4 linked regions of the Homo sapiens genome follow. The protein of the gene in region 1 interacts with the protein of each later gene in a pairwise test. Each region holds a gene or a part of one and is shown in the gene's direction. Other genes may lie near its edges.

What was found.
Region 2: the proteins of STX11 (region 1) and AXIN1 interact in binary tests that used the Homo sapiens proteins (3 or more experiments, as listed by UniProt).
Region 3: the proteins of STX11 (region 1) and CRYBA4 interact in binary tests that used the Homo sapiens proteins (3 or more experiments, as listed by UniProt).
Region 4: the proteins of STX11 (region 1) and GOLGA8F interact in binary tests that used the Homo sapiens proteins (3 or more experiments, as listed by UniProt).

The regions. Positions count from the first base shown.
Region 1 is NC_000006.12:144,181,490-144,188,516, forward strand, and holds part of STX11 (syntaxin-11), read left to right. Parts: intron 1-5,133; coding exon of another isoform or gene 5,134-5,138; coding exon 5,139-6,002; 3' UTR 6,003-7,027. UniProt on the Homo sapiens protein: SNARE that acts to regulate protein transport between late endosomes and the trans-Golgi network.
Region 2 is NC_000016.10:307,703-314,729, reverse strand, and holds part of AXIN1 (axin-1), read left to right. Parts: intron 1-46; coding exon 47-187; intron 188-4,660; coding exon 4,661-4,757; intron 4,758-6,104; exon of another isoform or gene 6,105-7,027. UniProt on the Homo sapiens protein: Component of the beta-catenin destruction complex required for regulating CTNNB1 levels through phosphorylation and ubiquitination, and modulating Wnt-signaling.
Region 3 is NC_000022.11:26,618,120-26,624,964, forward strand, and holds the start of CRYBA4 (beta-crystallin A4), read left to right. Parts: upstream 1-3,843; 5' UTR 3,844-3,867; intron 3,868-4,465; coding exon of another isoform or gene 4,466-4,477; coding exon 4,478-4,516; intron 4,517-5,114; coding exon 5,115-5,233; intron 5,234-6,845. UniProt on the Homo sapiens protein: Crystallins are the dominant structural components of the vertebrate eye lens.
Region 4 is NC_000015.10:28,374,551-28,381,664, forward strand, and holds the start of GOLGA8F (golgin subfamily A member 8F), read left to right. Parts: upstream 1-4,113; 5' UTR 4,114-4,211; coding exon 4,212-4,259; intron 4,260-5,956; coding exon 5,957-6,076; intron 6,077-6,661; coding exon 6,662-6,721; intron 6,722-6,904; coding exon 6,905-6,985; intron 6,986-7,114.

The DNA.
Region 1 (7,027 bases):
GAGGCTGAGGCAGGAGAATCACTTGAACCCGGGAGGCAGAGGTTACAGTGAGCCGAGATAGTACCACTGCACTCCAGCCTGGGCAACAGAGCAAGACCACCTCAAAAAAAAAAAAAAAAAAAAAAAAAGCTGACATGGTAGGTATCTATGGAATGGGTCACAAATTTGAGTATGCATTATAATCACCTGGAGATCATCCTAGGCCTACCGAATCAGAAACTCTAGGTGCCCAGGCATCTGTAATCTTTGAAGCTCTCCAGAAGATTCTGTCACCTCTTGCAGACCGAGGACCACTGAGCTACCATCATCTCTTTGTTCCTTTGTTTTCTCTTACACAAAACTTTATTGCTCAATGAAAAAAGGCTTAAGCAATACCCCCTTCCTTCCTTATTGGATCTGGTTTTCAGTACAGATTATATGCATGCCTGAAAAGAAAATTAGAAAGCAGAAGCAGATTTTTGGTAGTTGGTTGTCAATTTTCTTTTGAATTCTTCACCTCCATGCAAATTGAAGCAGGACTTATTTTTAGCAACTTGATGAATGCAATTTACCAAAGTTTATTACATTATCTTTTATTACAATAAGACAGGAAGGTCAGTGGAATTGTCTGATTTTTCTTTCTCATTTACCATAGTTCTCTTTCTAGGAACTCATAGTACAGAATCAAGCTATGGGATATATAGGTTATTTTGATTCTCTATTTGTGCCCACTTCTATATTTTTGTATAACTTCAGTAGTGTATACACTTTTAACCTTTTTGGAGACATTCTTAGGAATAGCAGTCTCTTCGTTGACTTTCTGTTGTAGTTTTCCTAATGTTTGCTCCCTGGTGACCAGGAGACCTTCTATGTCAGTGGAGACAACTCATCCAAGGCTGGCTGAGCCAAGAGAGGTGGGCAGGAAGGCCAGGTGAAGGCCCCCTTCCCTCCTTTACCACACCTCAATAGAGAATCTTTATGTCTCCTGTACCCTTTCTTTTTCTCTTATTAGCACATTATGGACTTGCGCCTTCACATGAGCTTGGGCCCTTACCTGATTTATAATTTGCTATCTATGACTTTATGGTTGTTCAATCTTGAGAAGGAATGACTGTCCCTGGACATCTTCCAAAACCATTTTCTATATGATTGAATTGTACTTGACTCTTCTTATTGTGATGAGATGATTTCCCCCAATAGCTTTTTAATGGCTGTAGGAGAGCAATACAGAGCACAGGACCTGTCTAGGATAAGCAGGATACATACAAATGATCCCTAGTGTCCCAGGGCGTGGTACAGTCCCTTATCTACCCATTTCCTTCCATTGAAGTGCCTTGTAAGGCTTGGCCAACATGTAAGGAAGGAAGGCATCTCTCACCTATTCTTGCCTTGTTCATCAAAATGCATCCATTCCATCTCATCCACTTGTTGCATGGTAGACTATATTGGGTACTAACTTAAGCAGATGGGTACAGCTCAACTCTACGCAAACTAGCTAATGTGCTTTCCCCAGGTAGCATAAAATGTTAACTTGATTGCCATGCATAGACTTTTAAAAGTTGCTAAGGAGTTAGTCCTTTAAACGAATAGTATTTATTGTTTTATGGGGGTTTTTAAATTATGAAATGTGTGTGGACATTATAAAAATTTTGGAAAATACAGAAAAGCAAAAGGAAGCAATTTAAACCATGTATAATTCCACAACTCAAAGAAAACTATAATTAACACTTTGATGTGTATTACTCAAGTTTCTGTTTCAGAATGCTGCACATTCTCTTTCTCCATAACTACTTTTTATGCCTAACAGAGTATATATGCTTTTCATGCCATTAGATAGCCTTCTAAACTCTGTGACTTATGTAGAAGCCAGGACCTCATTATTGTGCATTTAACTTATTTCTGAATTTCTGCAAAAACAAGGTGGTGATGAAAATATTTTGAGCAATGAGTTTCATACACTTTTGCATTATATCTTTAGAATAAATGCACATATGTCAAAACAAATGCACACTTGAAAAGCTTTTGATACATATTACTAAACTGACTTCCAGAAAGATTCTATCAATTACCAATTTTTTAAAATAATGAATAGACTTTGTTTGCAAAATCATTAAGTTGCAAAAACAAAGACACCACAGGAGTTTTAAATTAGACTTTTTTTTAATCTAGAAAAAAAATTTAATGTACTTGCTTAGTTCAGCAGAAGCTGAGAGAGGTCTCAAGACCCTGAACAATAATACTGATTTTATTATTTTATCTTATTTTATGTTTTTAAGTTCCGGGGTACACGTGCAAGATGCGCAGGTTTGTTACAGAGGTAAACATGTGCCATGGTGGTTTGCTGCACAGATCATCCCATCACCTAGGTTTTAAGCTCAGCATGCATCAGCTCTTTTCCCTAATGCTCTCCCCTCCCCCGCACTTCCCCGACAGGCCCCACTGTGCATTATTCCCCTCCCTGTGTCCAGGTGTTCTCATTGTTCACCTCCCACTTATAAGTGAGAACATGCAGTGTTTGGTTTTCTGTTCCTGCATTAGTTTGCTGAGGATAATGGCTTCCAGCTTCATCCATGTCCCTGCAAAGAACATGATCTCATTCCTCTTTATGGCTGTATAGTACAGTCTAACATTGATGGGCATTTGGGTTGGTTCCGTGTCTTTGCTATTGTGAATAGGGCTGCAGTGAACATTGACATGCATGTGTCTTTATAATAGAATGATTTATATTCCTTTGGGTATATACCCAGTAATGGGATCGCTGGCTCAAATGGTGTTTCCAGTTCTAAATCTTTGAGGAATTGCCACACTGTCTTCCACAATGGTTGAACTAATTCACATTCCCACCAACAGTGTAAAAGCATTCCTATTTCTTCACAACCACCATCAGCATCTGTTGTTTCTTGACATTTTAATAGTCACCATTCTGACTGGCATGAGATGGAATTACCAGTATGTTTTGAGAGTTCCCAGAATCCTTACCCATTTGAAAAAGTATTGTTTTTAAAAAATTCCTGCTAACTTTATGGGCAAGAAAATTCTCAGCAGTTTAATTTGCATTTCCTTGTTTAATACAGAAGTCTTTTGTGACTATATTTTTATACTTTTGCTAAAGATTATTTAGTGCATTGGTTAAGTGGTGCTATTCTAACGCCTGAGTGTTCACTTACTGATGACCTTGAGTAAATTCCTTGATCTCCCTATGCTCACACCAACTCTGATAATGGCAGTACCTACTCATAGAATCTGTATGAAGACTAAAGAGGGTATCACATGAAAGATGCCTAGAAAATATCAGGCATATATAACATACGTTTATGTTCTCTGTCATTTACATCTTCTCTGAATTGCTTCACTGTCTTTGGGTAAGTAGATTTTTTGGTAGCTTAGAAATATATATATTAAGTATCTTAACCTCTTGTCTGTCATATATTATAATTTCTCCCCAGTTGGTGGTTTGTCTTTCAATTTTGTTCAAAGTGAGGAAACAGTTGAATATCAAGAAATTCAGACCAGGTGAAGGCATAGTTTTGGTCCAGGGTGGATCTTTTTTCTGCCTGTCAACCATACTGCTAGGAGAATCACCTTCCCCATCCGTGAGAAGGTCTGGTATTGATTATAGCCACCAGATATCAGAAATGGCACTTTAAGCAGCTTACATTGTTACATTAAAAATCACCATCATAGAATAAAACTTCTGCTTAATTTATGTAAATAATGATCATGGTAGATGAAAGGCCGTGGTTAATATTTCACCATTTTCCATTTACCACCAAATCCAACTTGTCAGCATTCCATTAGTGGTGATATAAAATTAATTACTTCAACTTGAAAGAAGCTTTTAATTTGAGACCAAGAACCCTGATAGATTGCGTAACCATTAAGTGTTACTACTTTTCCCCTCTTTGCTGCAAATTGTGTAGTAGAAAAAGAATCTTTCTCATCATGAAGTCTTGTGTATAAACACAAGATATTCCCTATATTAGCATATATACATGCTACTAAAAATGAAAGTTTTTCACTTCACTGAAAAGCAATATGAACATAGAGACTATTACTTTGCCTTACTAAGCAGAGGAATTACCAGAACCATCCTTGTAAAAACATGAACATTCTGCTTGAGCTGCCAACTTGTTTCAAAAAGCTATTAAAAGTGGGCAAACATTGCTGCTACATGATGAATGAATGGGAGTGTGTTGTAGTATTGCTACTAGGCCACGTATGATTGGAATTTTCCACATAAAAGCATTTTAAAAAGCAGTGTTATTTACGATGCTTATCATTAGGGAATGATATTGAGAAGAGGAGTAAGGAAACCTCAACTTCTAAATTTTACACTTAGATTTCTGTATTTTGTTGTCATTTTACTTCAAGCATGTTTTACTTTTACAACATCTTCAAGAGAAAAAAATTTAAATCATGATTTGCATGGTAACTGTTTTAAGAGTTGTTAGTGTGTACAGGAGGGGATGCTTCCCAGTGCCGAAATAGACACAAAATAGGCAACATTTAGATGTTGGCCCCAAAGCCTTGTAGATTATCCTCAATTAAAAATACTTAAGTTTGCAAGTCTTTCTTCTTCTTTTTTCTTTTTTTTTTTTTCTGTGTCTGTTTTAATTTGCAATGATTGGAAAACATAAAGCAATGAAAAGAGATGGTTTCCCAATGCAATCTAAAATTTTCACACACCAGGGCCTGTTGTGGGGTGGGGGGAGGGGGGAGGGATAGCATTAGGAGATATACCTAATGTAAATGATGAGTTAATGGGTGCAGCACACCAACATGGCACAGGTATACATATGTAACAAACCTGCACGTTGTGCACATGTACCCTAGAACTTAAAGTATAATAAAATATATATAAATAAATAAATAAATAAATAAAATTTTAAATTGCTCATTGAGTTCTGCGCGGCTATGATATTGAACTGCAGGTGCCTATAGGCCTTAAAACACAACTGTTTCATGTTGTTCAGTCATCTTATTTCTTTCCTTGTAAGCAAAATGTCAGAACATTTAGCTCCTTTAGTGCACTTATTGCCCACACCGAGGAATACAAAATTGGGACTGCTGAGTAAAATGTTTAAGTTTCAATCCCTTGAAGGCAAATATTTGACTCTCAATAGAGAAATTTAACTTCATTATCTCTACTTGCAGGCAAAATGAAAGACCGGCTAGCAGAACTTCTGGACTTGTCCAAGCAATATGACCAGCAGTTCCCAGACGGGGACGATGAGTTTGACTCGCCCCACGAGGACATCGTGTTCGAGACGGACCACATCCTGGAGTCCCTGTACCGAGACATCCGGGACATTCAGGATGAAAACCAGCTGCTGGTGGCCGACGTGAAGCGGCTGGGAAAGCAGAACGCCCGCTTCCTCACGTCCATGCGGCGCCTCAGCAGCATCAAGCGCGACACCAACTCCATCGCCAAGGCCATCAAGGCCCGGGGCGAGGTCATCCACTGCAAGCTGCGCGCCATGAAGGAGCTGAGCGAGGCGGCTGAGGCCCAGCACGGCCCGCACTCGGCAGTGGCGCGCATTTCGCGGGCGCAGTACAACGCGCTCACCCTCACCTTCCAGCGCGCCATGCACGACTACAACCAGGCCGAGATGAAGCAGCGCGACAACTGCAAGATCCGCATCCAGCGCCAGCTGGAGATCATGGGCAAGGAAGTCTCGGGCGACCAGATCGAGGACATGTTCGAGCAGGGTAAGTGGGACGTGTTTTCCGAGAACTTGCTGGCCGACGTGAAGGGCGCGCGGGCCGCCCTCAACGAGATCGAGAGCCGCCACCGCGAACTGCTGCGCCTGGAGAGCCGCATCCGCGACGTACACGAGCTCTTCTTGCAGATGGCGGTGCTGGTGGAGAAGCAGGCCGACACCCTGAACGTCATCGAGCTCAACGTACAAAAGACGGTCGACTACACCGGCCAGGCCAAGGCGCAGGTGCGGAAGGCCGTGCAGTACGAGGAGAAGAACCCCTGCCGGACCCTCTGCTGCTTCTGCTGTCCCTGCCTCAAGTAGCAGGCCGGCCCGGGCCGCCACCGCCCATCCCAGACCATGGAGCGCGCTGGGAAGGACGCACCAAAGCCGGGAGCTCTGCCCTGCAGGGAGTTGCCCCAACCCTTTCCGGAACTCAGTCTTTAGAAAAGAAACGCCAGGTTCAAGAATTGCAAACCAGCCTGTGCTTGGAAAGATGGTTAGTTGATACCGTCCGATGATTCTTCAGTAAAGATAGATTCCCACAAAGTTGTGCAATGTCATTATATGACACCTTGCACTCTTACCGTCTTGACAGAAGCCAAGTAAGGAACTGAAGTTGTATCTGACTGTAGGGTGAATGTCTGAGGCCTGCCTCCTAATAAAGACTCAAGGAGGAAGTCAATTGGGCATCTGCTAATAGAATGAACTCATGATGGAAACTTCAGTTCATTTACTTTGTCCTGAAAATTCCCTGGTTCTGTTCCATTTTGAGCGAAATTGGCCTTGGGAAAAACCACGTTCTTCCTTTCCGATTCTTCATCCGGTCTACGCTATGCAATTCCTCCCCAAATATAGATCTTATTTCTGCTCATTTCCCCTACTTATTAAAATCACACCAAACACTTACTATTTTCTTATCTCTTTCACTTTTTAAATATCTTTCACCAGGTTATATTTTGGTATTATTTTTCCAAACATTTTTAAGCACTGAATATCGAACAAGCACTCAAATTGAAGTATCAGTCATGTTTTGTGTATTTTTCGCTGATAAAAATTATTTAACATTTATATTTTTACTTGATTACATATGCACATGTATGTAAATGTAAAATACTAATATTCACTAATATATGTACATAATGATCAATTGGTTTAACTTCTTTTATGTAAGTATGGTATATAAATTTCAAGACGAACACTTTTCTGGCTCTTGGTATTGGTTTGCTTGTTTTGAGTTTGTTTCACTCCAGTTTGCCCCTTCCTAGTCCAGTTTGGGTCAAACTTCATGTTAAACAACTCTGCATTGGTTATGGCGGTAGACATATGGCGGTAGAAAATGTATACGG
Region 2 (7,027 bases), on another chromosome or scaffold:
GCTGTTGGCAGGCTGTCACTAACATGCCCTGCTTGCCTGTTTGCAGGTATGGATCCTGGCGGGAGCCAGTCAACCCCTATTATGTCAATGCCGGCTATGCCCTGGCCCCAGCCACCAGTGCCAACGACAGCGAGCAGCAGAGCCTGTCCAGCGATGCAGACACCCTGTCCCTCACGGACAGCAGCGTGTAAGTCCCGCCCCGGATACCCAGTCCCTCACGGACAGCAGTGTGTAAGTCCGGTCCCAGACACCTTGTCCCTTGAGGACAGCAATGTGTAAGTCCTGCCCCAGACACCCTGTTTCTTGCGGATGGCAGCGTGTAAGTCCCACCCTGCTGCAGAGCGCGGCCAGCTCAGAGGGGGCTTCGTGCTGACCCAGAGATGCCTGGGCTTTGTCTTCAGGAAAAGTGTTTCCTGGCTCCCCAGGTCTCAGTGAGAGTGCGTCTGGACATGCAGGCAGGCTGTACCGCAGAGGCTGTCCTCCAAGCAGTACAAGTGAGGGCTCAGCTTTGTGTCGGTTGCTTCTCTCTGTGACCAGGGCTGCTGGGACCTCCCTATGAGGAAGGATCGAGGGTGAACCTAAGACAGTCTGTAGGCTGCCCGGGCTAGAGTTTGCTCTTTGGTTTTCAGAGTCTGGGGTTTCAGCTTAAAGACAGGCACAGGCCAGCTGCCTCACCACTGGCTGTGGCGAGTGATGTGGTCCCTGAGGGTGGCGTTTCTGCCGACGCTGGTGCAGTACAGGGTCCTGTCTTGTCCCTGTCACCCACTTGGCAAGGGGCTGGGAGCAGGAGTGAGGGAAGATGCTGTGGTTGTGCTGAGGCCTGGGCCACACATGTGTGACGCTCGAGGTGACAGGCAGAAGCTTATTCTTTCATTGTCCAGGGAAACCCCATGTGTAGGAACGTGCTTGTTTTATGACCTCTTCCCCTGTGCTTCGCAGCTGGCTTTTTGGGACCTATGTACACCCCAGCCATTAGATGATGCCAACAGTCTTGTTGCAGTAGGGCACTGGCTGCCAGCCTGTGGGGGTCATTTGGGGTTTTGGTTACCCATGAAGCTCAGACCTTCCCAGCTCTGGTCTGTGCGCCACACGCCACCTGCCCACCAGCCATCCTAGCCAGGGCTGGGGCCGAGCCGCAGGAACCAGGGTCTCCCTGCAGCAGCCTCAGCATTGGAGGAAGCCAGCGGCTATGAACTTGTGAGCAGCTGGAGCCCGCGGACCACCACCCTCCATCCCCACTGCGGCCAGTGGTGTCCCAGATGTCTTTCCCGCTTAGCTGGGTTCTCCATGAGGAAAGCCTGGAGATCTGGATAGGGCTGGAGGAGGAGAGAGGGACTTCTCACCTACTGGTGATTCTGCCCATCTTTTTATGAATATGTTTTAAGTGATGGTCCCACTGTATGTACCATTTTTATGGTTCTTTTCATTTTGAGACAGGATCTCACTGTCACCCAGGCTGGACTGCAATGGTGCGATCTTGGCTTACTGTAGCTTCTGTCTCCTGGTCCCAAGCAATTCTGCCTCAGCCTTCAGAGTTGCTGAGGCTACAAGCGTGCGCCACCACGCCTGGCTAATGATTATTATAATTTTTGTGGAGACGAGGCCTCACTATGCAGTCTCGAACTCCGAGGCTCAAACGGTGCACCCACTTCAGCCTCATGAGTGCTGGGATTACGGGCATGAGCCACTGCATCCGGCTGATGATGATGATTATTTTTGTGGAGACGAGGCCTCACTATGCAGTCTCCAACTCCTGGGCGCAAACTGCACCCACTTCAGCCTCACGAGTGCTGGGATTATGGGCATGAGCCACTGTGCCTGGCTGGTTTGTTCTTTTCATTTGCCTGTCTTTAAACATTTTTCCAAAACCTGAATTTCAGATGAGGAGAACAAGTTGTCACATTCTGTTTCTGAACCAGATTCAGCCAGCCCACATTGCCGTAGGTCTTGGCCCCTTGGTTTTTCCCCAGGTAGCTGTGGTAGTGCAGGGGCAGCTCCCTGCCCCTTCCGGGCAGAGCTGCTGTGTGTGGCTTCTCCTGGTTTCTTTCATCCTCGTTTAATTTTGAATCTTCAAAATAAAATGTTGACGTGATTTTAGCAGCACCTGACTTGAGGTTACTGGAGTTGAAGCAGTGCCTGCCGTGGTCCTGAAGCCTCGGGCCAGGTGGTTGGGTGCAGTGCAGCCCACGGAGCGCCTGACATGCATCCTAGCATCTGGTTTCCCTCTTCCCCAAAACTCTGTTACTACAACAAAAAGTAACCTGCCAACTCAGTTTTCTCAAAAAGTCTCCTAATTCTCTCCAAGAAAAGGGACATATGTTTCCTAAAGGGAGGACCTAAAATAAATAGGTATTTTTTTTCTTGATATTCTGTTCATCTTGGTTTGTACTGAAGTGTTTAACAATTTGGAATGTGAAATTGCTACACGTACTCGAAAGCAAATCAGAGGTAAAAAGTGGACAGGTGAAGAGCATCATTCCGGTGGGGCAGCTGCCCTCAGCTTTTGTGCTGGCGGCAAGCTCACAACATTCCACATGGCACTCGAGAGGCTGTGGGCTGTGGACACAGATGTGGGGTCAGTGTCTAATCCACGGAGGCCTGTGGAGGTTACCCAATCCAAGTATCATGTCTAAGAAACCAGTAGGTTGGTGGCTTCAGGACACTTCAACAAACCCCGAGGCAAGTGTTAGGTGAGTTTTAGATTCACTTGTTCCTGACGCCCACCGTGGCTGAGCCAGACCTGGACTCGGCTCACCATTGCCCACAACACTCAGTGGTGCTGTGACAGCCGAGGATGCCTCAGGAGTTGCCGTGTCTGCCACGCAGCCCTGGGTCGGGCGCTCTCTTCAGTCGTCCTGTGTCTCCTGGCAGCTCTGAGAGGCCCCTGGGTGCGGCACGGATCCCTGGAGCTGCCGTGCTTCCGAAGGCAGCTTTTCTTTCTTTCTTCCTTTTCTTTTTTGAGACGTAGTCTTGCTCTGTTGCCCAGACTGGAGTGCAGTGGCACAATCTCGCCTCACTGCAACCTCCGCCTCCCGGGTTCACGCCATTCTCCTGCCTCAGCCTCCCGAGTAGCTGGGACTACAGGCACTCGCCACCACACCTGGCTAATTTTTTGTATTTTTAGTAGAGACGGGGTTTCACCGTGTTAGCCAGGATGGTCTCGATCTCCTGACCTCGTGATCCGCCCGCCTCGGCCTCCCACAGTGCTGGGATGACAGGCATGAGCCACTGCGCCCAGCCCGAAGGCAGCTTTTCTAATAGCTGGGAGAGGGCGAGGGCTTTCATGAAGGATGGTTGTGCGTGAGTTATCTTAACCCTGGGGTAATTATTCAGACCATGTATAATCTGACTTTCGTGTTTTAATGATCTTCTAAAGGGTTCATAAAGAAAACCTGTTGCGGGCTGGGCGCGGTGGCGCATGCCTGTAATCCCAGCAGTTTGGGAGGCCGAGGCAGGCGGATCACGGGGTCAGGAGATTGAGACCATCGTGGTTAACACAGTGAAACCCCGTCTCTACTAAATAATACAAAAAATTAGCCGGGCGTGGTGGCGGGCACCTGTAGTCCCAGCTACTCGGGAGGCTGAGGCAGGAGAATGGCGTGAACCCGGGAGCGGCTTGCAGTGATCCGAGATCGCGCCACTACACTCCAGCCTGGGCGACAGAGCAAGACTCCGTCTCAAAAAGAAAAAAATAAAAGAAAACCTGTTGCTAAAGAGCTACCTTGTGCCTCCCTCAGAGACCACACTGCCCTGCCAGCTCCTGGAGAGAAGCAGAGTGTGCAGCCTTGGCATCTCCTATCTTTCCGTGGGGCACTGGTTGTCCTGGCTGCCCACTGTGCAATCCTGAAATGTTTTTGGTCCATTTAGCAATGCCCTCCAAGGCAGGCACACTGCACAGTGGTCTAGGCCACAAGCAGGGGCCAGCAAACGTTTCCCGTGCAGGGCTGGCAGTGAATATGTGAGGCTTTGCAGCCGCATGCAGTCCCTGTCACAGATTCTTCCCCCACCCTTTAAAAATGTAGAAACCTTGGCCGGGCGCCGTGGCTTGCGCCTGTAATTACTCCCAGCACTTTGCGAGGCCGAGGCGGGCGGATCACGAGGTCAGGAGATCGAGACTCTCCTGGCTAACACAGTGAAACCCCGTGTCTACTAAAAATACAAAAAAATTAGCTGGGCGTGGTGGCGGGCACCTGTAGTCCCAGCTACTCAGGAGGCTGAGGCAGGAGAATAGCGTGAACCCGGGAGGTGGAGCTTGCAGTGAGCCGAGATTGTGCCACTGCACTCCAGCCTGGGCGACAGAGCGAGACTCCATCTCAAAAAAAAGAAGAAAAAAAAATGTAGAAACCACTCTTAGCTGTCAGGCCCTAAAGAACAGGCAGGCACAAGGAGGCTTTGTGGAGGTGCCCAGTAAATACCAGCTAGGAAGACGCGTGGCTGGGCACCTGGGCTTTACCATCACGTGTGAACCTTTGTGTGTACATGTTCCCCTGTGCACACATGGGTGCCTGCATCACCTGTGTGCACGTGTCTCAGTGGTGGTGGCTCACAGGTGTCCTCATCATTGCCTGCTGACCGGCGGTCGGGGCCAGGAGCTCTATTGGCACGGTGCTGGCCCTCCTGCTCCTCTCTGAGTTAACGGCTGCCTCTTTCTCCTGGACAGGGATGGGATCCCCCCATACAGGATCCGTAAGCAGCACCGCAGGGAGATGCAGGAGAGCGTGCAGGTCAATGGGCGGGTGCCCCTACCTCACATTCCCGTAAGTACCGGCTTTGCGGTCCTCAGCCCATCGTCCTCCCCGCTCAGCGTGGGCCTGGTGAACTGGTCCGCGGGAAAGGCACTTGCCTGGCCTCCCACGAGCCAGGCTTACCTCTAGGCGTAAGCGTGTGATCCCAGCAACATCTGCAAGTGGCCAGTCCCTGAGGGCAGCAGGGGACATCAAGTCTCAGGCAGCATTTAGGGCCCAGAGGGAGCTGTTCATTCAGAAGAGCCCCCATGCCCCAAGGCCACACCCTCCCTGGTGGCAGGAAGTGTCTTGCCTTGTGAAGGTGGATGCTTCCCCTCAAGAGGGGGAGCTCTGAGCCTTTCTCAAGACTCAGAGCCCAGGCCTGGCCCCTGCACAGCCCTTGGGGAAAACTTGGTGTTTTTGTGGCTGAACAGTGGTCGTCTCCAGGTAAACGTCTTGACTTTAAAGCTGCCTTGGCTTTCGCTGTTGCATAGAATAATGGCACCTTTGCCCAGTCTCGGGCATGGGGGCTTGGCTGGGCAGTAGGTCATGGAGCTGAGTGCTAGCTGGAGCCCAGCACAGCCTGACTCCGTCTACAGAGCATTCCTGCGCTGATGAACAGATTAATGATCTTTCCTTATTTTGATGGGTTGACTTTGAACAGGAAAGATGTTACGGGAAGATGAGAAAAGTGTTTTCTTTTTTTTTTTTTGAGATAGGAGTTTTGCTGTCACTGCAAGCTCTGCCTCCCGGGTTCACGTCATTCTCCTGCCTCAGCCTCCCGAGTAGCTGGGAGTACAGGCGCCTGCCACCACGCCCGGCTAATTTTTTGTATTTTTAGTAGAGATGGGGTTTCACCGTATTAGCCAGGATGGTCTCGATCTCCTGACCTCGTGATCCGCCCGTTTCAGCCTCCCAAAGTGCTGGGATTACAGGTGTGAGCCACTGCGCAACGCACTGTTAGCCGCGGTGTCTGAGGTTAAACCACGTGACCATCTGAGTGTCTGTGCAGGGAAGTAGGCATTTTGAGAGCACTGACACAGTCTTGGTCAGGATTTCTTAGCCTTTTAGCTTTTCTGCAGACATCAGTTTCCAAGTCAGGAATTTCTTTATGGTTGAAAAGAAAGGATGTTGGTTTGTTATCACTTCTGAGAAGATGCCAGCCAACCCTTGACTCAGGTTTGGCTAAAACTAGGCACTGATGGTGTCTACTTAACAAAAAGTGGCTGACACTGTAGGCTGTGTGTGGGTGCGTGCGTGTGTGCGTGCTTGTGCTGTGGAAGATCTGGGGCCCTGCCTGCCAGGCATGGCCCAAGGCTATCATGAGGTCACAGCCCAAGTCGAGGGCACCTGCACAGCCACCGGCCTCTGATTTTCAAGTCACAGGTCCTGAACGTCAAGAACCCGCGGAGCCGCTGGGATGACGGAGGCCCGAGAGACAAGACAGCTGAGCAACCACAGGCCCGGAACAGCCCTCTGTGCCCATGAGGACGGGGCTTGAGTGGGCTGAGGCCCGCGGGAGGCTTCTGTCCACAGGGGTGCCCCGATTTTGGGGTGCTGGTCAGAGTCTTCGTGTGTAGAAAGTGCATGCCACAGACTCTGGATGAGGGGGCATCAGGCAGACAACCTCCCCTCAGAAGGGTCAGGAAGGACAGAAGCTGTGGAGTGCGTTGGTGCCTGGAACGTGGACCTGGAAAGACCTCTCAGGATGCAACACAGAGAAAAGAGGATGCCTATGGCGAGTCCCTGGTGTCGTCGTCAGAACCTTCCAGAACCGAGGGAAGCACAGAGCCCTCAGGTCCTGGAGGGTCACATTTGAGTCGCCAGGAAGATGAAAGCCAACAGAGGCGGCAGGCACAGACAGGAGCAGGCCCTGCTGCGTTCCGCACCCCCAGAGGGCCCTTGTGTGGTGGGGTGGGGGCCGCAGTGTGCGTTTCTGTGTGAACAGTCTGCAGCAAACAACCTCATCGGAGGCTCTGTAGGAACCTGCATCAGGTCCATGTGGCCTGTCAGGTGGGGCTGTGGTTGGAACCTTCGGTGGGAGGTCCCTCAGCCAGAGGCCCAAGTGAGAAACCCACATCACGGGCACAGCTGCCCGGGGCCTGCTCACTGCTGCTACTGGGAAACTGGACCCGAGGATGGTGGTGAGCAGAGGCGGGGGGAGGCCCAGGAAGCCGATAAGCTAGCAGGACGTGCCGTGGTTGCACTGCCCACTTCTGCTCTGTTGAGGGCCTTGGTTTTGCAAAAGCTATGCCGTTTCTCTGGTGAGTCCATGGCTCTGCAGCAGGGACAGCAGGAGGGGA
Region 3 (6,845 bases), on another chromosome or scaffold:
GGGCAGGGAGTGGGGGACTGGGGCCCTGACCTCGCCTGGATCACTGCAGACAGCAGCACTTTCCTTTGTGAGACCAGCACACACAGCAGAAACCCTGGCCACAGCAGCTTCACCTTCCAACCCTACCCTGACTCCTTTCTCAACAACCCCAGCCAGGGATGGGCCCCCAAAAGGGTCCCTGCTGGCTGCCAACATGGGGCAGGGAAAAGGGGAGACCCTGGGAGGCAGGAGACCAGAGTTTGAATCCTGACTCAGCCACTGCGCGCTGTGTGGCTTTTGGTAGGTCTCTACCCCTAGGGGGGCCTCTGTGTCTGCAATTATAAGGTGGGCACGTGTCCCTGTTGGATGCCATATAGAAAAGAAGGTGACAATGAGCACAGAAGCGTTTTGTAAAGGCAGATGTGGGTTTGATATGGACAGCCTTTTTTACGGAGTGCTTACTGTGTGCCGAACCCGTGTTATCTCGGTCAGTCCCCGGGACAATCTGCCTTATTTGGTACTTTCATTATGCCCATTTCACAGAAGAGGAAAGTGAAGGCACAGAGAGGTCAGAGCCAGCCCAGGCCAGCCAGCTCTGGGCCTGTGTGCTTTCTTCTCCTGCTGTCCAGCCTTGACCTTGGCCTGAGGCCCCCTGGCCTGACTTCCTCTTTGTAGGTTGGGGTGGGAATGGGAGAGTCGCACTGTGCTCAGCTGGGTTGGATATCGGAGACCTGGGTCTTTTTCTTTTCCCCACATTGGGCCCCATCCTTTCCTGACCTATCGACAGTGATCCCTCTCGCCACCCCAGTTCCCCGCCTCTACCCAGGCCACGTTATCTGACCTGGAGGACAGTGCTGGTGGCCAGAAATATGACTGCCTGTCCCAGAGCCTCCTGCCCTGGCAAGCCCCAGATGCCCACCACATCTTGTTCACCACTGGCCCCAGCACCTAGCTGGGCCTGGCTAGGTAGAGCTTGGCACATCATGGGTTCTCAGTCAATAACTGGTGACTCAATGGTGGTTCCAATGGATCGGAACAGAAGGTAGGGTACGGAGGAGATAGGGAAACCAAGGCAAGGAGAGAGAAGTAAGGAGGCAGATAGAAGTAACAGACAAAGAGAGAGGTGGAGACAGAGACACAGAGAGGCACAGGGGACATGGACAGTGAAGGAGCGAGAGACGGAGAGACAGAGGTCAAGTTGGGGTGATCAAGCCTCAGGACGGAGGAACAGACGCCAGAAATCACAGGGCCCAATCCTCCCATTTCACAAATGGAGAAACCGAGGCCCAGGTGGAACAAATGACTTCAACATAGTCACATGGCGGGAACTCACAGTACAGCTGGGGTCAGAAGGAGCCTGGGGAGCTGCTCAGCTAGGTCACCTGCAGTCGGCTCCCCAGTCCCAGGCAGGGTATATTGCGGGGGCATCTGGATAGGCTCCTGTCTCTTCTTTTTCGGGGTTCTAGGCTCCCCGTGGAGCCCAGCTCTGTCTTGAACTCTCCCTGGCCTGGAGCCAGCTTTGCCTCTGTCCCTCCACCACCCAGCACCCCCTCGCTTCCTAGCCTCTCCTTGGCCTTTCATCCTGGGCCAAGACTTGGTGGGTGGGGTGTGGGCAGGAACTGCAAGATGGGGTAGCCACTGGAACTGGGGCCAAGACGCCTGTGGTGAGGGCCCACCCACCAGTCTAGGCTTCAAAGCCAGGTCATCTGGGGCAGTTCCGTGCCCCCCCTAAAGCCCCAGGAATGGGCTGTCTGCCAGAGGGTGGGGGCAGAGAAGGGGGATGGCCCACCATGTTGGTGGCTCCACTCTGAGCATTTATTATTATTATTGTATCCTTCATTATATCTTTTTCTTTTTTGCCCTGTCTTATGGAGCCAATTTATTTTCTTTTCTTTTTTTCTTTTCTTTTTTTTTTTTTGCATTGTCCTGTACTCCTCAGTATAAGGATGAAGTCTCTGGGATTAACCCCAATTACGGATAAGGAAACTGAAGCAACTCCCTTTCCTTCCTCTCTCTCAGCCACTTTCTCATAAAAATGGAAATGTAAGATAAAATTGGAACTCACATCTTCTTTACTCATGAACCCAGGCTCTTAAAAACTATGCACCCCTGCTTTTTGATCAACAATTAATAATAATCATCTTTCTTATTAGCAATGGTGATGATGAAGATGATGGAAATACCACAATATTTTTTATGTTGCAGGAGCAATTCCAGCTGCTGTTCATGTGCTATTCACATTTATCCTCACAATCCCCCTGTTTCTTAGACTAATCCCAACTTACCTTGTTACACCCATTTTACACACAAGTAAACTGAGGCTCAGAGTGCGTAAGTAACATGCTTAAAAGTTACCCAGCCAGCACCAGTGGGATGCAAACCCAGGCAGTCTGGCTGTAGAGGGTGCATTGTTAACCTTTCATTTTCATGCCAACCCTTCATCAAAGTCATGCATTCCTTTTTTTTTTTTTTTTTTTTTTTTTTGAGACGGGGTCTTGCTCTGTCACCCAGGGTCAAGAGAAATGGCATGATCTTGGCTCACTGAAACCCCTGCCTCCAGGTTCAAGCAATTCTCCTGCCTCAGCCTCCCTAGTAGCTGGGATTACAGGCGCCCGCGCTACTCCCGGCTAATTTTTGTGTTTTTAGTAGAGACGGGGTTTCACCATGTTGGCCAGCCTGGTCTTGAACTCCTGACCTCAGGTGATCCACCCACCTCGGCCTCCCAAAGTGCTGAGATTACAGGCGTGAGCCATTGCGCCCAGCCTAAAGTCATGCGTTTGATAGAGCTGCATTTCACCCTCTTAAAAGGAAACTGGTGTGGCCACTTTACAGGTCATGAGCAGGACTCAGGTGTCCTCCAGGTCACACGGATGGTAAGAAAGAAGCAGGGCTGGATTTCATCTCAGATGATCTGGTTTCCAGTCATGCTGTTTTCCTATGCTTGTTACACCCATTTTACACACAAGTATGTATGTATGAGGGACCTCTTAGGTCCCTCATACGCCAATTCAGAGGGCAGGGTTTCGGGACAAGAGGCACACAGCAAATTGTACAAGTCCTGGATATTTGGCAAGTGTGCCACAGTTTGCAAAGCATGTTTGCAACTAACAGCTCCTCTATGCTGCCCACAGTGCCATCCGGATTCATCTTCAGGCTTTGTGGACCCAGCAGGCCCTGGCCTAGCCCTCTTCTCCTGCCTCACTTCCCTTCAGGTCCCCTGAGCTCCAGGCCAATTGGGCTACCAGCTCTTTCTTGTACATGTGCCCCAAGTTCCCACCTCTGAACTTTTTCTTAGAATGCCTCTCCTTCCATCTCACTCTGTACATATCTTCCTCATCCTTCAGAGTCTAGTTCAAATGCCTCCTCTAACGGCAAGCCTATCTGGATTGCTTCAACTGGAAGAGAAAGGGGAAAGAGAGAAGGAAAGGAATAGGCATTTCCTGAATGTTTACTCTGTACCAGGCATGTTATGTAACCTCACAACAACTCTGTGATATGGTTTGTTTCTGCCCCATTTTATAGGCAGAAATTGAGGGGAAATGACTCGCTGGAGCTCACATAGCTAGGAAGGATGCTTCTGGACTCCTCATCTAGTGCTCATTCTCCTGCTCTAGTCAGGAACCTTGTGGGGCTGATGAGGGCCAATATTCCACCTCTCTCCTTCTTCGTGGCTGATCCCTGGGGGTGGTGATCTGGTCCTTTCCCTCCCTGCTAAAGCCAGAGCTGCTGACGGCTTGCCATTGGCTCTTCAGCCAGGGCTGGCTTTTGTTTCTGTGGCCCAGTTGCTGAGTCGGGGCTTTGTCTCCCAGGGGCCCCTCTTCCCTCCCTGCCTATAAGAGCCCGACCTCGGCTGGTCTCAGATCTGACATGTTCCCTGGGCCTATCTCGGTAAGTCCCAGGTTTGGAGGAGGGGTGGGATCAGAGTTCTGAGTGAGCATTCTGGGAGGCGAGGAACCCAGGTCCCCAGTCCTAGGGATGTCACTGTGTCATCCTGAATGCCATCCTCATCCTAACCAAGGATGAGCCCCAACCATCAAGACCAGCACCTGCTTCCCTCATTTAAAAACAAATTATTCCTGTAGCCCTATTGCCTAAATTTCCACCATCAGAGCTACCTCTTTGAGCTAGGTGCTGTCTTTGGAAGGGCTCTCTTATGCTGAGCATTTCAGCACTCGCTGGGGTGATGCACCCACCCACCAGCAGCCACAAAAATTTTCCCATAACAAGCAGATAAGAGAATACAGAGTGGGGCTCAGAGTCAATGAGACCCAGCAAGGGTGAGTTTTGAGATGGGGATAGGATGGAAGATGGCATTGGTGACAGATGGAAAGGACAGGAGAGGGACAGGCCAAAGCCATGCATTGCCCCTAGCCCAGTCACTCCTGGACTCCCTATGTGGATCCTGACCAGGTCCAAGCCAGCCATCTGCATAAAGAGGAGAGCAGAGGGTCAGGGTGGAAGATTATAATGTTCTTCTCTTCTGCAGGAAGGGGCCACAATGACCCTGCAATGCACAAAGTCAGCGGGACCCTGGAAGGTAGGAAGAGGCATGGGGAGGGGGTGTTCAGGGGGTATGGGGAGGGTTCAGGTCCCCATGAATCCTAGGAGGGGGGCATTATAAATGCCTATTTCACAGAGGTGCAATCAAGGCTCAGAGTTGAGAAGGGACTTGTATGTCACATACAGGGAGGTTGAATGTGAATTTGGGTCTTCTGGTTCCCAAAGTTGACCTGTTACACTCTTTGGCAGAGGTTGCAGTCTTTGGGCATGATTTCTTTGACCATCTCTGTGTGTGTTTGTTTGTTTTATAAAGCTTTTGGATTTATCATCAGCCTTTAAAAGCCTGGAAGAACCACATAAAAGTCCAGATCTAGTGATTGTCTTGAGAAATTGGAAGGTCTGGCCTGCATTCCCACTTGGCAACCATTGGTGGCACTGGGAAGAGGCCACCCATTTACCTGGCACCTGTGCTGTCTAGTGTCTCACATTTATCACTGCTCTTGCCTTCCTGGCTCCTGGAGGAATCTGAGTTTGCAATCCCTGCTTTACCTGCCAGATCCTGGGGCGAGCCCCCAACCTCTCACCCTTCACGGGACTCTGATGCGGATCTCCACCTTTTTTTTTTCCTGGCACAGATGGTGGTGTGGGATGAGGACGGCTTCCAGGGCCGGCGGCACGAGTTCACGGCCGAGTGCCCCAGCGTGCTGGAGCTTGGCTTCGAGACTGTGCGATCTTTGAAAGTGCTGAGTGGAGCGTGAGTCTAGGGGGACACTGAGTTGGGGTAGAGGGTGGACAGGAAGGGACCTAGAGACGGGTGCTAGGACTTTTAGATATTCTAGGTCCCCTCTCCCTAGGCTCTTACTGTTGTGCCCTCCTGAAGTACTGAGGAGTGTGCAGGACTGCCATGTAAGATTATGCAGGTTGCGCACTGCCCAACAGTAGGAGGGTGCCATTTACACAGACCCTGCCCACTGGATGAGGCAGTTCTGCAGGAGATCCTTAGAATCCAGTGTTGGATCTAAAAATGTCCCTCCCAGCCGTAAATTGAAAGCCAACATCACCCGCCTAAAGTAGAAGGTAACTGTAAAAATAAACATAATGTTTTAATGCTATTAATTTTTAGCTAAATAGTCTTGCTGCTAAGCATGTGGCCTGATCATTTTTTGTAAAAAAAAAAAAAATTAAAAAACAAAAAAGAGAGTGAGAGAGAGAGATTAGTGAGACACAGAGAGGTGTTAAGGACACACTAATAACACACCAAGACTTTCTAGACCAGTGTCATTCAGTGGACCTGTCTGCAATGATGGAGATGTTCTACATCTACACCATCCATTTCAGAGCCACTGGCCAGATGTGACCATTGAGGATTTGAAAGGTAGCCAGCATGAGTAGAGAACTGAATCTTGTTTAATCTTAATTTATTTAAGTTTAAATTTAATTAGCTACATATGGCCAGTGGCTACCATATTAGATAGAAGGTTCTAGAAGGTTGGAAAGCAGGTAGAAAGGAGATGTGGCCAGTAGCTACCATATTGGATAGAAGGCTCTAGAAGTTTGGAAAGTAGTTGGAAAGATGTGGCCAGTAGCTACCATATTGGATAGAAGTTTCTAGAAGGCAGGAAAGTAAATAGAAAGGAGGTGTGGCCAGTAGCTACCATACTGGATAAAAGTTCTAGAAGTTTGGAAAGTAGATCGAAAGGAGATGTGGCCAGTAGCTTCCATATTGGATAGAAGGTTCTAGAAGGTTGGAAAGTAGCTAGAAAGGCAATGTGGCCAGTAGCTACCATATTGGATAGAAGGTTCTAGAAAGTTGGAAAGTAGATAGACAGGAGATGTGGCCAGTAGCTACCATATTGGATAGAAGGTTGTAGAAGTTTGGAAAGTAGATAGGAGATTTGGAGTCACTTAATGCTACACCTGTGAGTGCCACCTGAGGTCATCTTGGGTGATTTTTGCACATCTCATGCTTTAGTAAATACTCTTTTAGCTTCTGATTTGTGCAGGTGGGGAATGGGGGTCAGATGGGAACAGAGGCTTTCTAGGGGTATGTCCAGCAGGCTGACAGACTCAGCCAGTAAGCAGACAATGAGCTTGGATAGATTCAGACAGTTTATTACTTATACAGACAGTAAAGGCAAGGTGCAGCCTCCTGTGTCCCTTGTCCTACTGGACGACACCAAAACAAAGGGGGCTGAATGACAGGCATTAGGAATGGTAGGAACCCCGTGGCTGAAGAGCTGCTTCCATGCTTCAACGATAGCTTGCTGCTGTCGCCTGTGGGGAGGCGAGGTGGAAAGCCCCACATCTCAGAGTGGCCAGAGAGGCAGATGAGGGGCTGCCTCGTGGCAGCCTCCCACAAGAGAGGG
Region 4 (7,114 bases), on another chromosome or scaffold:
AGTTATGTGCCACCACACCTGACTAATTTTTATATTTTTTTTTTGTAGAGACGGGGTTTTTCCATGTTGCCCAGGTTGTTCTCAAACTCATCCACCTGCCTTGGCCTCCGTAAGTGAGATCACAGACATGGGCCACTGTGCCCGGTCTAGTGCGCTTTTTTTTTTTTTTTTTTTTTTAACCAAACAAACGATGAAGTCTCAGGAGTAAAAGTTGATACACAAGTAAATTTTATTGGTAATGTTTTTGTGTGGTCTTTAAGCAGAGGGAAAATTAGTCTGCATTATGGTGTATCCAGACTAAATAACTGATATTAAAATGAAATTATCCTTAGGATTTGCAATCTTAGAGAAAACTTTTTCATTTTTTTTGAGTTACAAATTATCTTCACTTACATTTGAGAACAGTGAGTCACAGAGGGATTAAGTATCTTACTCAAGATCTTCAAGTGTTTGGTTTGAACCCAATCTTTTCACTCTGCAGAACTCAGAGTCACTCTTATTTGGAAACTTTTTAACTGATGTGGATCCTCTAATATGGGCTTCCTATTATTCATTCCGTATTAGTCAGAAGTTTTGCAAGCAGGCAGAATTCATTTTGCCAATTACGGGATTTTCCCTCAGTTGCAGTCAAGGTTCATAAAACTATAACTATTTATCTTTAATTATAAATTTTGTTTTTGAGACAAAGTCTTGCTCTGTTGCTCAGACTGGGATCCAGTGGCACAGTAACAGCCCATTGCAGCTTTGAACTCCTGGGCTCAAGGGATCCTCCGCCTCAGCCTCCCAAGTATCTGGGACTACAAGTGCATGCCATCATCCCTGGCTAATTTTGTTAAAAAAAAAAAATTGTAGAGATAGGGTCTTGCTTCGTTGCCCAGGCTGGTCTCAAACTCCTGGCCTCAAGCAAGCCTTCAGCCTTGGTCTCCCAAAGGGCTGAGATTACAGGTGTCAGCCATTGCACCTGGCCAAAACTGTAACTATATATACACACACACATAACTACATATATATGTGTGTGTGTGTGTGTATGTATGTGTGTGTGTATATATATTTTTATATATAAATAGATATATCTGAAAGGCATCAAAAGAAAAAAGCTGTAACTTTTAGTCTTGATCTTGATAGTGACTTGATTAGGCTATCTGTTTAACATCAAAGATGCAAATTAATGCTTTCTTTGGGTGAGCATATTAAAAATGCAGAAAATATTGGAGTAGTTTTTTATGTTAAATAAATTGTATTCTGTGTATTTAAGGTATACAACATGATTTTATGGGATGCATATAGATGGTTAAAAAAAATTACTACAGTGAAGCAAATTAACGTATCCTTCAACTCAGATAGTTACCCGTTTTCTTTTTGTTTGGTGGCAAGAGGAGCTTAAAATCTCATTTAGCGTGAATCCCAAATACAGCACAATTTTATTACCTATATTTCTCGCGTTGTACATTATATTTCTAGGCTTGTTCATCCTACATATCTGCTACTGTGTAACCTCTGAGCTATGTCCACCCATTTTCTCTCTTGCCCCCCAAGTAATTTCCTAAAGTGTCTCATATAAAAAGGCAGTAGCTTTCAGCTTAAACTTTTTCTCTGTATATATTTAAGTCAATTTCTTTGAGGTATGTTTTTCTCTCCAGAATAGTTAGATGTAGGCATACCACTTTAATGTTGACACTAGTTCACCTAGAACTTATCTTCTGCAAATCTGTCTCTATGTCCATCTCTGTCTCCATCTTTGTCTCTGTCTTTATCTCTGTCTATCTATCTATCCATCCATCCATCCATCCATCTATCTCTCTATCCATCTATCTGTCTATCTAACTAAAGCAAATTCATGCCCTTCTCCTATTTATGGAATCGAGACCATAAACAGAGGTGAGGGAAAGAATTTGGCAGGAATTGCGATGTGTATTACCTGTGGCATAAGGAAACTTTACAGAACTAGGGTCAAAAGTATACTTTCTAGTTCTTTCCCATGGCTTTTCACTTTGATGTAGTCCTTATCAGGCAACTGAGGTTTTATATAAGTCCCCTGATTCTTAGAACATGAAGGTGTAGTATTCAAGTTTGGTCCCTTGAAACCACAATTTTTGTTAAAAAAAAATTAAGAAAATTGTATAATTTCCTCAGCAAATACATATTGATCATCTGTTATACAGCCATGAGAAGTGGTTCTGTTGAACACGTTTATTTTATCAGATCCCAATTCTAAACCAGGCATAGAATGGAAACCATGAAGGTAGGATGAAATAACTTCTGAATGTTTGAAAATAGTGTACTTAAAAATAAATATCAGGTGTTTTTGTTTTGTTTTTTGTTTTTTGTTTTTGAGACAGGGTCTCACTCTGTCACCCAGGCTGGAGTGTGGTGGTGCCATCTCACCTCATTGCAGCCTTGACCTCCCAGGCTCGGGTGATCTCCCACCTCAGCCTCCCAAGTAGCTGGGACTACAGGCACATGCCACCATGCCCAGCTAATTTTTTGTATTTTTTGTAGAGACAGGGTTTCACCATGTTGCCCAAGCTGGTCTAGAACTCCTGGGCTTAAGCGATCTTCCCACCTCAGCCTCCCAAAGTGCCAGGATTACAGGCATGAGCCACCATGCCTGGCTGAAAATACCAGGTTTTTAAGTATCAGCACTGCCTCTTCAATCTTTTCTATTACTATGTTGTGCTCAGTGGTATTTTTTATTGAATTAGAGCAGTGCTGTTCAATGGAACCTTCTTTGAGGATGGAAATCTTTTATGTCTCTGCTGTGTGGGTATGGTATTAGCTGGGTATGGGGCACCTGCCTATAGTCCCAGCTACTCAAGAGGCTGAGGTGGGAGGATCACTTGAGCCCAGGAGGCCGAGTCTGCAGGTTCGTACCACTGCAATTCAGCCTGTGTGACAGAATGAGACTCAGTCTCAGAATAAAATGAAATAAGGAAATAAAAATGTAATTGTTGAAATAAGAAACTAGTGGATGGATTAGACACGAGAAGAAAGAATTAATTGTTTAGGCGATTCTCTCCAAAAAGTAAGTCAGCATGTCACACAGAGAGACATGAGGATGGATGATAGGGCAGAAGTTGGTGGGCTTGGAGGGGAGAGGAAGATCAGAATGAGGTCCAAAATGTGTCTTAGTGAAATCCCAGGAGGAGATATTAAAATTATATTAGAAAGTGAAAGAAATAGAAGTTTTATTTATTTATTTATTTATTTATTTTGAGAAGGAGTCTCGCTCTGTAGCCCAGGCTCGAGTGCAGTGGCACGATCTGAGCTCACTGCAAGCTCCACCTCCTGGGTTCACGCCATTCTCCTGCCTCAGCTTCCCAAGTAGCTGGGACTACAGGCACCCACCACCACGCCTGGCTAATTTTTTGTATTTTTAGTAGAGATGTGGTTTCACCTTTTTAGTCAGGATGGTCTCAATCTCCTGACCTCATGATCCGCCAGCCTCAGGCTCCTAAAGTGCTGGAATTATACGCATAAGCCACTGCACCCGGCCCAAAAGCTTTGTGTTTTTACAAATATTACACATGTTTCTTGTTTAAGAAAAAAAGTCTTCACAATAACGTAGGAGAATAAGAGAAACATTTTTCCAAAAAAGAGAAGTCATTGTGATTATTTTATCTTATTGGAATGTTGGATAATATAGTCTGCTTCAGTAATCATCAAGCATGCTATGGATTTTCCATCTTCATAGGATCTGTATCTCGGTTAAGGTAATACTGGTAATTTTTGTACTCTATGAAAAATATAGGCCAAAATCATAGACCTTGCATAGAAGCTGGATCATGAAGACAGCTCTGGAGGAACACACAGGTACACACACACAGACACACATATATATAAAGTATACACATATATATTTTTTAAAAGCTTTTAAAGCAAAAGCCGGCCCTGCCCCTCTCCCAGAGTTGGCGGCCTCTCCCCTCTCTTAGAGTGGGTGGGGACAGTGGTTGCATGGGCAGCTTTCCTTGTGAGCCAAAGGTCCCTCTGGACACATGATGCCTGGCCACGCCCCCTTTCCCTTTCATCTTTCTCATTAACCAATGGGCTTGGAGCATTAAGGCCACGCCCCTATTCTGCCTTCTACTGCATCCCTGGTTACGCCTCCTCTGGCTCAGTCGCACAGCTACCTGGTAGGTGACTGGAGGTGTTGATCAGTGCTTGGTGGGATTTTGCTGATGTGGCCCCAAGCCCGCCTCCCTCCCCACCCTGCGATGGCAGAAGAAACTCGACAAAGTAAATTGGCAGCAGCCAAGAGAAAGGTAAAAACACACCAGGTCACGGACCCCCAACCCAGCCATAGATCCTCTCCAACGACAAGACTGCTGCCAGAGTCCATACCACTCCCGAGGTTCACCGGACTGGGACCCCCACACCGGTGCCTCTGGGCTACCCCCACCAAAGTTTTGTCAGTCAGCCCCACCCCTTCAGCAAGCAGCCCAGTCTCTGCCCTCACCAATCACCCCAGGGTGACTTTGGGCAGGTGAATCCTGGGGCTCCCCGCTCCTTTACTGGGCCCTCATCTCCTGCCACCCCAAGCTTGACCTCCCAGGGCTTTTTGGGCTCACATCTCCAAGGACCTGGGTCCCACAGCCCCAGACCCCACCCTCACCAGTCATCCCTGGGTGACTTTAGGCTGGTGAATCCTGGGGCTCCCTGCTGCTGACTCTTCCCTTCCCTCCTGCTGCCTCAAGGTGGACCTCCCTAGGCTGTGTGCACTGGTGTCTCCAAGGACCTGGGTCCCAGCTCTGTTTTTCCCTCCCCTATCATGGAGCGGTGACTCGGACATCATGCTGATGTGGTCCCTCCCCCTCACCAGGAAGAGTGGAATGTAGTGATGTCACGGTCCATCCAGTAACTGTCATTACTGCAAGACTGGCCTTTGATCTTATGACCCAGTCCCCTAAGCATTGCCACCCCATTTCTGGTTCCTCTTGTCACAGCACAAATTTCCAGCTGGAAGGGGAATGGAGATTGGGACCTAGGAGCAAGAGGTTTCAGGCTGCCTCACTCCCTTAGCATAAACATTGACAGCGGGAAAAGCCTACACTTCCCCTGTGAGCTCAAAACATTGACAGTACCTCTGGATGGCAACTGGAGAATGGGTTTGACTTGGTTTGGTTTTCTCCCAGGCTTCTACTTTCCAGAGAGATTTTAACAAATTTTTTGTGAGTTCTCCACCTCACATTCTAATTCTCCATGGTTCTGGGACCAGACTGCCCTTCAGCCAGTGGTCTGTGAAGTGAGATTTGCTCATCTTCTCTGGAATAGATCTTGGGAAACTGAACTTGACAGCTTGAATCTTCCTCATATTATGTAAACCTGGGGTACTTTGAGTGCCACAGGATACATATGGGACATCTTTCTGAAGCATCAGTTTCCATTGATTCTCTTGAGATCAAGAGAAAAAACATTAATGTACTTAGGGATGACAGTCACATAGGTTTCTAAGAGTATACCAGACTTCTCTCTGAAATGAGGCTTGGGTTGTCCTCTTTCTGATAAATTCCCAGATTTAACAGAAAGGCTGCCTTCTGCCATGAGGACACATTGATATAAGAGTTTGAGAGGTACTGGTGCACTTCTTCACACTAACAGACGTGTGAGGATGTATGACTAAACCACATGGCATACAGTTCCTGCCTACTTAATGTTTACTTTTCTACCTCTGCCTCTGGTTTTGGTCCCTGGCAGCTGCTGATTCTTGGTAAAACCCCAGAGTTTGGAGTCAGAAGACTGAGTTTCAAAGTTCGTCTGTCGCCTTTTTCTTTTCTTCTTTTTTTTTCTAGCCATGATATCAATCTCTTTGAGTCACTAAATGATTGTGACAACACCTTGTACAGTTGTTGGTATCATTAAATCAGATGGTGTATAAGAGTATTTTATAAAAACTGTAAAGGAGGATGTGGCTGCAGGGGCTGATAGTTCTCATGAGTATTACTGCTCTTGTTTCTGACAGTTAAAAGAATATTGGCAGAGAAACAGCCCTGGTGTTCCAGCAGGAGCCAAGAGGAACAGGAAAACAAATGGCAGCATCCATGAGACAGCCACTTCTGGTGGTTGCCACTCACCTGGAGATGTGAGTCTTGGCTGACTAGGTTCCTGGGGACAGGGGACCCAAGGGGCACTAGAGGGTAATTGTTAAGATTGTGGATGGACTGTTGGGTACCTGTGAAGAATTCTGGGTTTGAATCCTGCCTCTTTGTCTGCTAGGGATATGAATTAGGGCAAGTTGCTAGACCTCATCGGGCCTCTCTTTTCACATCTGTATAATAGAGGTGGTATTGTTTCACTTCCATTTGTGAAGTTTAAATGAGATTTGTTATTGTTGTTTTTATGTTAATCCCTAGTACATGGCCTGCTGTAAACACCCAGAACACCCAGGATATGGTCATTGCTGTTCGATTTTCCTCATCCCCAGTCTCAAGGGGAAGCCAGGACAATGAGAACAGTCACTTGGCACAGGAGTCACTGAAAGGGCCACAGGGTGCTGTGGTGGGGAGATAAGAACCATGAGAGAAGTTGGCACAAAGGAGTTATGGGACAAAGGGTCCAAGATAGGCAGAAAAGAAAATTGTGCCAGTTGATGGGGAAGAAAAGAAGTCAGAGGGCTTAGATACTGAGTGGGACAGAACATCTTCATGTGCACTCTCATCTCTTGTAGTCAGCAACAGGTATCCACGGGGAGAGCCCTACATCATCTGCTACCCTGAAGGATCTGGAGGTAAGAGGCTCTGGGCAGAGGTGCAGTGACCCTGCAGGCCAGCCCTCCAACCTCCTCCTCCAGGTGGGACGGGGTGCCCCTCTGCCAGCTGAGACAGTCCACACACACCCCAGCCCTAATGATTGCTCTCTCTACCTCTCCCCCCACTCCTCCTCCACCTCCTCCTCTCTGCATGCGCCTCAGAGCCCGTGCCAAGAACTAGCAGTAGTCCCAGACTCGAGGTCCGTAAAAGTCAGTCAACTGAAGAACACCATCAAATCTTTGGTAAGAGTCCACTGGGGTCCCCTGATTCCACGCTGCCAATCCTGGGCTCTAGTTTCCCCTTGGGGCCCTGAAGAAAGGGGACGGCGGCCCCTGGTGCCAAGGGCGAATAGGGAGCTGGGGCGCCCAGGC